Homo sapiens: one gene and its partner. Changing the gene in region 1 together with any one later gene gives a genetic interaction. Each region holds a gene or a part of one and is shown in the gene's direction. Other genes may lie near its edges.

Region 1 (4,836 bases):
AATGGCTTGTGCCTGTAGTCTTAGCTGCTTCTGAGCCTGAGGCAGGAGGATTGTTTGAGGTCAGGAGCTTGAGACCAACCTGGGCAACACGAGACCGTTTTTAAAAAAATAAAATAAATTGGCCAGGCGTGATGGCTCATGCCTATAATCCCAGCACTTTGGGAGGCCGAGGTGGGTGGATCACCTGAGGTCGGGAGTTCGAGACCAGCCTGACTAACATGGAGAAACCGCATCTCTACTAAAAATACAAAATTAGTCAGGTATGGTGGTACATGTCTGTAAGCTCAGCTACTTGGGAGGCTGAGGCAGGAGAATCGCTTGAACCCAGGAGGTGGAGGTTGCAGTGAGCTGAGATCGCGTCATTGCACTCCAGCCTGGGCAACAAGAGTGAAACTCTGTCTCAAAACATAAAAAATAAAATAATAATAATAATAAAATACATTTAAAAATAAAAAGAATTTGGCCAGGCGTGGTGGCTCATGCCTATAATCCCAGCACTTTGGGAGGCCGAGGCAGGCAGATCACCTGAGGTTAAGAGTTCAAGACCAGCCTGACCAACATGGTGAAGCCCTATCTCTACTAAAAATACAAAAATTAGCCAGGCATGGGGGTGTGCACGTGTAATCCCAGCTACTCAGGAGTCTGAGACAGGAGAATCACTTGAACCCAGGAGGCAGAGGTTGCAGTGAGCTGAGATTGCGCCACTGCCCTCCAGCCTGGGTGACAGTGAGACTCTGACTCAAAAAAAAGTAAGTAAATAAAAAGAATTTGATCAGAAACTTGAATGTAACAAATAGAGTATAGTAAATATAGAGTAGGTGTGGATTTTACTTTAAGGATCAAATCCTTAGTTTGAGAGCAGGACAGATGAGCATAGTTTGTCTTGTATTTGATGGTCTGGTAGTAACTGTCAGTATGGATCCATATAACTGAGTAACCTCTTCCATTGAGAACAATTGACAAGTACACAGGTGCTCAACAAATATTTGTAACATATTTGGGGAAAAAGACACTCAGACTGCCATATTTTGATGTTGTAAATAATTGCATTTTGGATAACTGTGATTTTGAAATAATTCCTTAATTTTTTTAGAAGTCAGTTTTCTGATTCAGCAAATTGGATACTAATACAGGACGTTTCAATGGTGAGGGAGAAAGATGGTTGTATTGGGTTTTAACCCTAGAATTATGACCTTGGGCAAGTCACATTTTCTTCTCTGCTCCCCATATACAAGCAGAATGGACTTGGCTGTACCCAGTGAATCTTTAAGGTTTCTTTTAAAAATCTTTGCTTCTACTTTGGGAGGCTGAGGCAGGAGGATCAGTTGAGGCCAGGAGTTCAAGACCAACTTGGGCAACATAGCAAGACCCTTTCTCTACAAAAACAGAAAAAATTAGTCAAATGGGCTGGTGCATACCTGTACTCCCAGCTACTCAGGAGGCTGAGGTGGCAGGATTGCTTGAGTACAGTTCAAGGTTGCAGTGAACTATGATTGTGTCATGGCATTCCAGCCTGGGCAACAGAGCAAACAAAAAAGTCTTTGCTTTGGAGTATGTTGAGTTGCTTGGAGACAAAAGTATTTAGAGTATAGGTGACCCATAGGTTACAATGACTTCACTTAGAAATTTTCAGCTTTATGATGGTGCAAAAGTGATGTGCATTCAGAAGAAACTGAGCATCAAGTACCCATGCAACCATTCTGTTTTTTACTTTCAGTGCAGTGTTCACTAACTTGATAAATAAAATAGAAAATAATAATAAAATGCAGTTTAACGTGTATGAGATACACAACACTTTATTATAAAATAATCTTTGTGTTGTTAGATGCTTTTGCTCAACTGTAGGCTAATGTAAGTGTTCTGATCGTGTTTTACGTAGGCTAGGCTAAGCTATGATGTTTGCTAGGTTAGGTGTATTAAATATATTTTTGACTTATGTATTTTCAACATAAGCTGGGTTTATTGGGATGTAACCCCATCGTAAGTTGAGGAACATCTATTCTATGAGTGGTGTACACAATATTACTTTCACACAGAGTGAAGACTAAAATATTTATGATGCCTATGTCTTTTTGGGGGAGAATTGTTAAATTTTGTTTGTTTGTTTTGTCCTCAACAGTCAACGACAACACAAACAGCAGAGTGGTCCTTTGGTCCTTCTTTGAAGCTCTTGTTCTAGTTGCCATGACATTGGGACAGATCTACTACCTGAAGAGATTTTTTGAAGTCCGGAGAGTTGTTTAAAAAGCCTCTTCCTGATGATCCCAACTCAGAATTCACTGTTTACCAAACACCTTGGTCATAATAATGTCATTAGTTTCTCCATTTTTATTTTCTGAACTGTACATTCACAACTTATGTTTCTTTGAGATTAATAGATATTGGGGGAAAAACGCCTTTTTAGGAAAATTATAGTGAAAATTTGACAGTTGATTGGCATAATTTCTTGTTTGAATGCTGCCTCCATTATATAGGTCCTTCCAGGAACTCAAACACTGTAAGTGAAATATGGGAGTATAGTTTTTATTATTTCTTCTTTTCCTTTTGTTTTCATAATATAATGCAGTTTGTTCAGGAAATCAGCACAAAGCCTGATAGTACTTTACTAAAATGACTGCATTCTTTGGATTCCTTCAGTCTATGGTTCAAGTCACTAAAGATTCATTTTTGTTGAGTCCTTATGAGAAACAGCAGTATGAATCTTGACGGTTTCTGCCCGTCCTAATGGCAGAGCTCTCTGACTTGGGTGTATGCTGCCAGGCTGGGTACTTTCATACTTTGTTTTCTTGTTTTGCTTTAAAACTACGACTCAGCATACATTTTCCCACATACATTTTTACATTGTACCTTAGGACTCAGTCATCTCCACTTAAATTGATGACACAAGCAGCTAATAACCATTTCTGGGTTTCTGCCTAACCCCCTAATTGTCTGTTAAAGCCAATTCTCTGGGTGTCCCAGTGAGTGGTGGCTTTTTTTCTTTCCACATTGGCACATTCACTTCTCCCACTCTTGGCATGTAAGAAATAAGCATTTACATAATTGGAAAAATCTGGATTTCTGATGCCAAAGGGTTAAAGCTTCTTGGATTTCATTTCATTGATATACAGCCACTATTTTATTTTTGATCAGTGGCCTTTGGGCCACTGTTCAGGGTACTGACCATCAGTGTCAGCATTAGGGTTTTGGTTTTTGTTTCTTTTGGGTCTTTCTTTTTTGGCACATGTGAATCTTGTTTTGTGTAAAATGAAATTACTTTCTCTTGTTCTCTGATGATGGGTTTAAAATTAAAAGAGCATCCGGTTTTGGTATGGGGATGATCCAGGATTATGTTGTGACTGATACATATTAGTTACTTGTGCTTTTTTTTTTTTTTTTGGATCTTTGCAAGGGCAAAACTACAAGTAACGAGTTTTATATAATTAATTTAAATTTGTTACAGGTTTTCATGTTCAGGATAAACCATACTTCCACCTTGGGTGAGAACACTTGCAACAGTTTATTAATGAGGTGACTTTCACCTTAGGACAACTGTTGCATGCCAAGTTTTTTGTGTGTGTGAAACACTTCAAAACTGATTTAAAAGATGTAAATTTAAAATTGGTTGTATCTAATATGCCCCAGGTTCGGTAAATAAACAATTCTTTTTAAAAACAGTATTCTGTGTTTTATATATTGACAGCTAATCCACATTTTTTACACACCAACTTTCTGTTCTTATTTGACATGAGACATGTTCATGTTTTCTGAGTATTTATACCTATTACGTCTGTTACTTTTTAATTCTATAAACTTGAGGATAGTGAATGGTACCAAGTTTTAGTTTCTGCGTAGGTTTTCCAGTGTGGCTTCTCTGATGGATCAGTGCTAAAATCTTAAGTATTTTTCTATTTGGGAAAAAAGGGTTGAATTATTTTCACTTGCCCACGTAGTTTATGAATGTGGGAAATAGCTTCAAAGACAGATTAAATGATTTGCCCAAGGCCACAGAAAAGAGTGAAAGGTGGAACCGGAGACTAGATCACCACCTGTAGAAACTGTTCTTCCTCTGTGAAACTAACGGCCTGCTGGTAATAAAAGTAGCTACCATTTCTTGAGTACTGTGTAATGTCTCGATCTAGTACTAAGCACTTTACTTGGTCTGTCTTATTCATGCTTCAAAACTGCCATTACCTTGGGTAAAACCATTTTGGAAGTGAGGAGGAAAACAGGCTTGGAAAGGGTCTTAAGGTCAGAAAACTAGTAGGTAGTAGAGCCCAGAAGACACACACAGATATGTAATTTCCCTGTGCCTTTGCTTTCAGAACTGTCTGTGAAGTCTCCCACCTTTTCTTTTTTTGGAGACAGGATCTCACTCTGTTCCCAGGTTGGCTTGATCTCTGCTCACTGAAGCCTCAACCTCCCGGGCTCAAGTGATCCTACCACCTCAGCTCTCCAAGTAGCTGGGACTACATTTTTTGTTTTTTAAAGACAGGGTCTTGCTTTGTTACCTGGACTGGAGTGCAGTGGCACAAACATGGCTCACTGGAGCCTTAACCTCTCAAGTGATCCTCTCATCTCAGCCTCCCGAGTAGCTGGGACCACAGGCATGCACCACCACGCCTAGCTAATTAAAAAATTATTTTTGTAGAGGCAGAGTCTCCTGTATGTTGCCCAGGCTGGCCTCATTCTCCTGGGCTCAAGTGATCCTCCTGCCTCAGCCTCCCAAAGTGTTGGGATTGCAGACATGAGCCACCGTGCCTAGCCGAAGTCCCATTTTATAAAAGTTGTCAAAGGTGTTTTGAGAATGTGATGATCATTTCACTGAAAATGTGGCTTCAGGCTGTTGTCTTTTAC
Region 2 (6,058 bases), on another chromosome or scaffold:
ACTGTTAGGTGACTCTCCCTAATATTAAATAACCAGGAACCTGGATTTGATGTTTTGAAGTCAGGGTAGCTTGATCCTCGAGTTCATGCTTCCTCCAAGGATACACTGAAAGACTTTGAGCCTCTTTTTTTTTTTTTCTCTTTTTTTGAGACAGGATCTGGCTCTCTTGCCCAGAGTGCAGTGGTGTGATCTCAGCTCACTGCAACCTCTGCCTCCTGGGCTCAAGCGATTCTGCCTCAGCCTCTCGAGTAGCTGGGACCACAGGCGCACGCCAGCATACTTGGCTAATTTTTGGATTTTTAGTAGAGACAGGGTTTCACCATGTTGGTCAGGCTGGTCTCGAACTCCTGAGCTCGTAATCCGCCCGTCTCGGCCCCACAAAGTGCTGGGATTACAGGCGTGAGCCACCGTACCCAGTCCCAACAGTTTTTTAAAACCCAGAACTATAATGCAATAATGTTAGCATTTGTTTTGGGAGTTTGAGCCTAAATGGTTGAAGTGCAGTAAATTGTTCTTAAAATACGTTTTATGAAAGTATTTGGAGTCATCTTCCTTACATTTTTTTCTCTAGGATGAAGACAACACCTAGCCAGGCATGGTGGCTCATGCCAGTAATGCCAGCACTTTGGGAGAATGAGTTAGGATAATTGCTTGAGTCCAGGAATTTGAGACCAGCCTGGGCAATGTAGCGAGACTCTGTCTCTACAAAAAAGAAAAAATTAGCCGGGTGTGGTGGCATGTGCCTGTAGTCCCAGCTACTCAGGAGGCTCAGGTGGAAGGATTGCTTGAGGTGGGAGGTTGAGGCTGCAGCGAGCCATGATCATGCCACTGTACTCAGCCTGGATGACAGAATGAGACGCTGCTTGAGAGGGGAAAAAAAAGACACCTGCTTGGGATGATTAAAGTTCTGTCTTGACTGGTAGTTATTTGAATTAGGTCCCTCCAGTGCTTTTAATCATGGTAGAATGTGCTAGCAAGTGAGTTTGTCTTACATGGAAGAGTTCTGTGTTCAAGGGCTTTCGGCCAGTGGCATTCCTAAACACAGTGTTAAAGGCGGTAGGGAATGTGAAAAGTATGACATAGTTCCTGCTCTCAACAGCTTGTAATTTTAGTATTATTATCGTAAGCTCAATTGTAGGTACTACTTCTTTTCTGGACTTTCAGGTGCTTATTACCGTGCAATTTAGTGGTATGAGTTGAGGACTAATGTTTCTATATCACATCCTGATAATCTCCACAGTTATGAAAACTAAACTATTTCCCCTCCCTCCTACACTTTTCCCCAACTTTATTTTAATGGAATTGTTTGGATTTCTTGATTGTTTTGTAATAGTGGGACACAGCAGGCCAGGAAAGATTTCGAACAATCACCTCCAGTTATTACAGAGGAGCCCATGGCATCATAGTTGTGTATGATGTGACAGATCAGGTAAGTTCCAAGAGGAGATTGTGTTACAGTGACCAAGTAGGAAGCCATTATTTGATTAATGTCAGATTCATTTACTACTTCATATATAAGCCATCAGTATTAATTTTATGGCAGAAAACTTTGTCCACTCTCAAATATAAATGTGAATCACTTAAAAGACATTTGTTTTCCTGTAATAAATAAAAGATTAGTAATTAGTTTTACGTTTGCTTTCAAGGGATTCTGGTTGTATTTATTGTCAACTAAATAACTTTGATCAAATAGCCAAGACTCTAACATATAGGCAAGAGTTTGTAGGGAATCGTGAGTTGCTTGGCTTATACTGTGTTCTTGGTGTTAAGTATTAACAGGAATATGGCCTGGTAATTAGAACTTGTCCATCAGAATTGCCAAAAGTGGGATTCGGGGGTCTCTGCCTATGGAGGATGTGGTTCAGAAATAAAGAATTTGAATAGGATAAGCTGTAGGAGGATCTTAGTATGAGAATGAGTATCTGAAGATTAGCTGTGAGAGAGGGCAGAGCGATGGAGGGAACAATGTGGGACAGTGTGAAGCATGTGATCCAGGGGCCATAACTTTTTTTGTTACTATTTTTTTAAATCAGAAACTTAGATTTCAGTGTCCTTTCTATCAAAGAAAAGGACAAAAGATAAACGTTCAAAATTGGAATTTATTTTTCTTTTGGCAAATGTTAAATCTCACCTCTAATGAGAAATCATAGCTAATTAGGAGATAACTTACATGTAAGCATTTAGATTCAGTGCCATTAGAAGTGCTGGGTGGGTGATATCTGCAGGAGAAAAAAATGATGCTAGTTTAAAAAATCTCTACTATTACCGTGAAATATTTTTAAATGAAAACTTTCGTCCTCTAAATATGACTGTGGAAAAGAAAATGAGTATATTTAATAACATCTTTTGACATCTCTAGTAGTAACAGTAGGTCATCTTATTCATAAACCAAAATTTTACCAAATTTCAGGCCAGGCGCAGTGGCTCACGCCTGTAATCCCAGAACTTTGGGAGGCCGAGGCGGGCGGATCACCTGAGGTCAGGAGTTAGAGACTAGCCTCGCCAACATGGCAAAATCCCATCTCTAGTAAAAATACAAAAATTAGCCAGGCGTGGGGGCCCGTGCCTGTAATCCTAGCCACTTGGGAGGCTGAGACAGGAGAATCGCTTGAACCCAGCGGGCAGAGGTTGCAGTGAGCCGAGATCGCGCCATTGCACTCCAGCCTGGATGACAGAACAAGACTTTGTCTCAAAAAAAAAAAAAAAAAATTAATCAAATTTCAAAACCAGGTTTTGTAGTACATTTAAATTGCATATTCCAAAGCAGTTGGGTTTGCCTGCGTTGCAGTTTAATATTAAGCTATACTTCCCTTTCAAATAAGGTATTTTCATCGTTAAGCCTGTAAATTCTAGTTTGTCATTGTTTAGATATTTATAGTCATTTTAATATATCTGTTTACGGCCAGCTGCAATGGCTAACACCTGTAAACTCAGCACTTTTTGAGGCCAAGGTGGGCCGATTGAGCTCAGGAGTTCGAGACCAGCCTGGGCAACATAGTGAAACTCCATCTATACAAAAAATCCAAAAAAAAAAAGACAGGTGTGGTGGCATGTGCCTGTAGTCCCAGCTATCCCGGAGGCGGAGGCGGGAGGATGGCTTGAGCTTGGGAGGTCGAGGGTGCAGTGAGCTGTGATTGTGCCACTGCACTCCGGCCTAGGTGACAGAGCAAGACCCTGTCTCAAAAAAAAAAATCTCTTCACTCCTTAGCAGTGGTTATTTTGTAGCTAGAGTTGTCTCACTAGCTCTTTGTTATTTGTCTGTTAGGTCAGGAACGATGTTTCTGTTTATTCCAGAACTATATTATCGAACTATATTATCAGTCTTTCAAATGTCTTTTTAGGAGTCCTTCAATAATGTTAAACAGTGGCTGCAGGAAATAGATCGTTATGCCAGTGAAAATGTCAACAAATTGTTGGTAGGGAACAAATGTGATCTGACCACAAAGAAAGTAGTAGACTACACAACAGCGAAGGTATGTTTAAAGTTTAATTTTCATACTGAATTTGAAGGTGTTGAATTATGTATGGGTTCTGCAGTAACAGTAAGGCCACAGCCTTTTAAAAATATGTGCACTAGAATACTGTGACAGTGACAATTTGTGTAGCATCTGTTTGGATCCAATGAACTTAGTTCCTCACGCTCCATTATGGATGGTAGAAATGCACTAAGAATTAGTGAAAAAGATTTTTCAGTGTTAATTGTGCCTCATTATTCTCTTAGGAATTTGCTGATTCCCTTGGAATTCCGTTTTTGGAAACCAGTGCTAAGAATGCAACGAATGTAGAACAGTCTTTCATGACGATGGCAGCTGAGATTAAAAAGCGAATGGGTCCCGGAGCAACAGCTGGTGGTGCTGAGAAGTCCAATGTTAAAATTCAGAGCACTCCAGTCAAGCAGTCAGGTGGAGGTTGCTGCTAAAATTTGCCTCCATCCTTTTCTCACAGCAATGAATTTGCAATCTGAACCCAAGTGAAAAAACAAAATTGCCTGAATTGTACTGTATGTAGCTGCACTACAACAGATTCTTACCGTCTCCACAAAGGTCAGAGATTGTAAATGGTCAATACTGACTTTTTTTTTATTCCCTTGACTCAAGACAGCTAACTTCATTTTCAGAACTGTTTTAAACCTTTGTGTGCTGGTTTATAAAATAATGTGTGTAATCCTTGTTGCTTTCCTGATACCAGACTGTTTCCCGTGGTTGGTTAGAATATATTTTGTTTTGATGTTTATATTGGCATGTTTAGATGTCAGGTTTAGTCTTCTGAAGATGAAGTTCAGCCATTTTGTATCAAACAGCACAAGCAGTGTCTGTCACTTTCCATGCATAAAGTTTAGTGAGATGTTATATGTAAGATCTGATTTGCTAGTTCTTCCTTGTAGAGTTATAAATGGAAAGATTACACTATCTGATTAATAGTTTCTTCATACTCTGCATATAATTTGTGGCTGCAGAATATTGTAATTTGTTGCACACTATGTAACAAAACAACTGAAGATATGTTTAATAAATATTGTACTTATTGGAAGTAATATCAAACTGTATGGTGATAAGTATTGTTTTGATTCTTATGGTTAAAGGGAAATAGAGCCTTGCATTATATTCAACACAGCCATTTGTGTGTGCACAATGCAAACTAAGGTATTCTAGACCTATCTTAGAGCAGCATCCAGTATTTGCTTTCTAGATAATATGCCCAATAACATGACCTAGAGGGGCTTCTGTGCTGTGTAGGGATTTAACCAACTTCAGTGGTTCAGGGAGCTCAAACTATATGTAAAACAAGTTTAGAATGTATGCTATCTAGCCCGTTATCTCTGATCCTTCTCTAAAACCATTTGAAATAGCTTCATTGATCAACATTTCATAAATGCATCTGTGGTAGAGGTAGAAAGCAGCACCTTTCCTAATTGGCAAATGATCAGACTAATGTGTGCTAATGTTTTTCTTCCATGCTTTCAGTCAGATTCAACTATTTTATCCTCCACAGTTGCTTAACTTGGTGTTGGAGGAGGGTTTAAGCATTAAGATAGGAAGCAGGAAATTTGATTGCTCTAAATTTAGAAATTATATCCCTAAAAATTAAAACATGAATACTGGGTGGTAATGATAATTGAGGCAAATGTATTTATTTTGGTGACATTTTGCATATATGAAGATTTTCTGAAATAGGACCTTCAAGATCCTAGGGGGTTTTGTTTGGTTTTTAATTGTGAGGAATAAAAAATCTTCTGCCCACACTGGCATTTTAAGGTGACTGAGGTCAAACGTTGTTTCCTTAGGTTGAAATAGCAGCCAAAACATTCTTCACGCAGGGGCTTGGGATATGGCTGCTGGCAACACATTTTGTTGTGGGCTCCTTAATTTAATGATAAAATTTAAGCTAAACACAAGCCAAAAATGAATAGGTTTTTTTAATTTTTATTTTTCACTAAACAGGCAATTGAAATACATGGTACAAAAATAAGTGGTAAGATAATTGTAAAATGAAATGGACAGAATATTCAATTTTCCATCTATGAAAATTTCACAATAAAAATCATAGTTTACTTTGTATTATAGGCGTGCTTGGTGGATCTATTCATCCTCACATAAGGCAACTGACAAATTCCTGAAGTTACCAATAGTTATTTTGGTGAAGATCTTTAATGCTTCAGAAGTTTTGTTTTTGCCTTAATACAGTATAAAGGGGGAAAGAGTTCAGAAACTATTTTCTAAAGTAGCTAAATGACACAAAACAAATGTCAAGATACTGTGATGCCATGCCGTGCACTTCATTTTTACACAGTAAAAGTTGTTTAAATTGTCAGCTTATTCTTGGTGAGTTAGCGGAAACATTACATGAACTTAAGATGAGCATATTTACAGACTTAAGTTTGGAAAATTCCAGCGTTCTTTTCCCCATGGCAGTAAAGATTGGGATTTACAACAAATTTCAGCATGCCTTAAGATTTGCTTCTATGTATACGCCAATAAATGTGGTTCTGGAAAAAATATATACCCCTTTATACCCCCATTTTCAAGTACAAACGGTTCAAAGCTACTACAGGTTTTAA

The links.
Region 2: changes in TMED2 (region 1) and RAB1A are lethal when combined (synthetic lethality), as found in Homo sapiens cells (one study listed by BioGRID).

What each region holds. Positions count from the first base shown.
Region 1 is NC_000012.12:123,594,486-123,599,321, forward strand, and holds the end of TMED2 (transmembrane emp24 domain-containing protein 2 isoform 1 precursor), read left to right. Parts: intron 1-2,119; coding exon 2,120-2,244; 3' UTR 2,245-4,097; downstream 4,098-4,836. UniProt on the Homo sapiens protein: Involved in vesicular protein trafficking. Mainly functions in the early secretory pathway but also in post-Golgi membranes.
Region 2 is NC_000002.12:65,086,354-65,092,411, reverse strand, and holds the end of RAB1A (ras-related protein Rab-1A), read left to right. Parts: intron 1-1,333; coding exon 1,334-1,429; intron 1,430-3,341; coding exon 3,342-3,473; intron 3,474-3,721; coding exon 3,722-3,919; 3' UTR 3,920-5,558; downstream 5,559-6,058. UniProt on the Homo sapiens protein: The small GTPases Rab are key regulators of intracellular membrane trafficking, from the formation of transport vesicles to their fusion with membranes.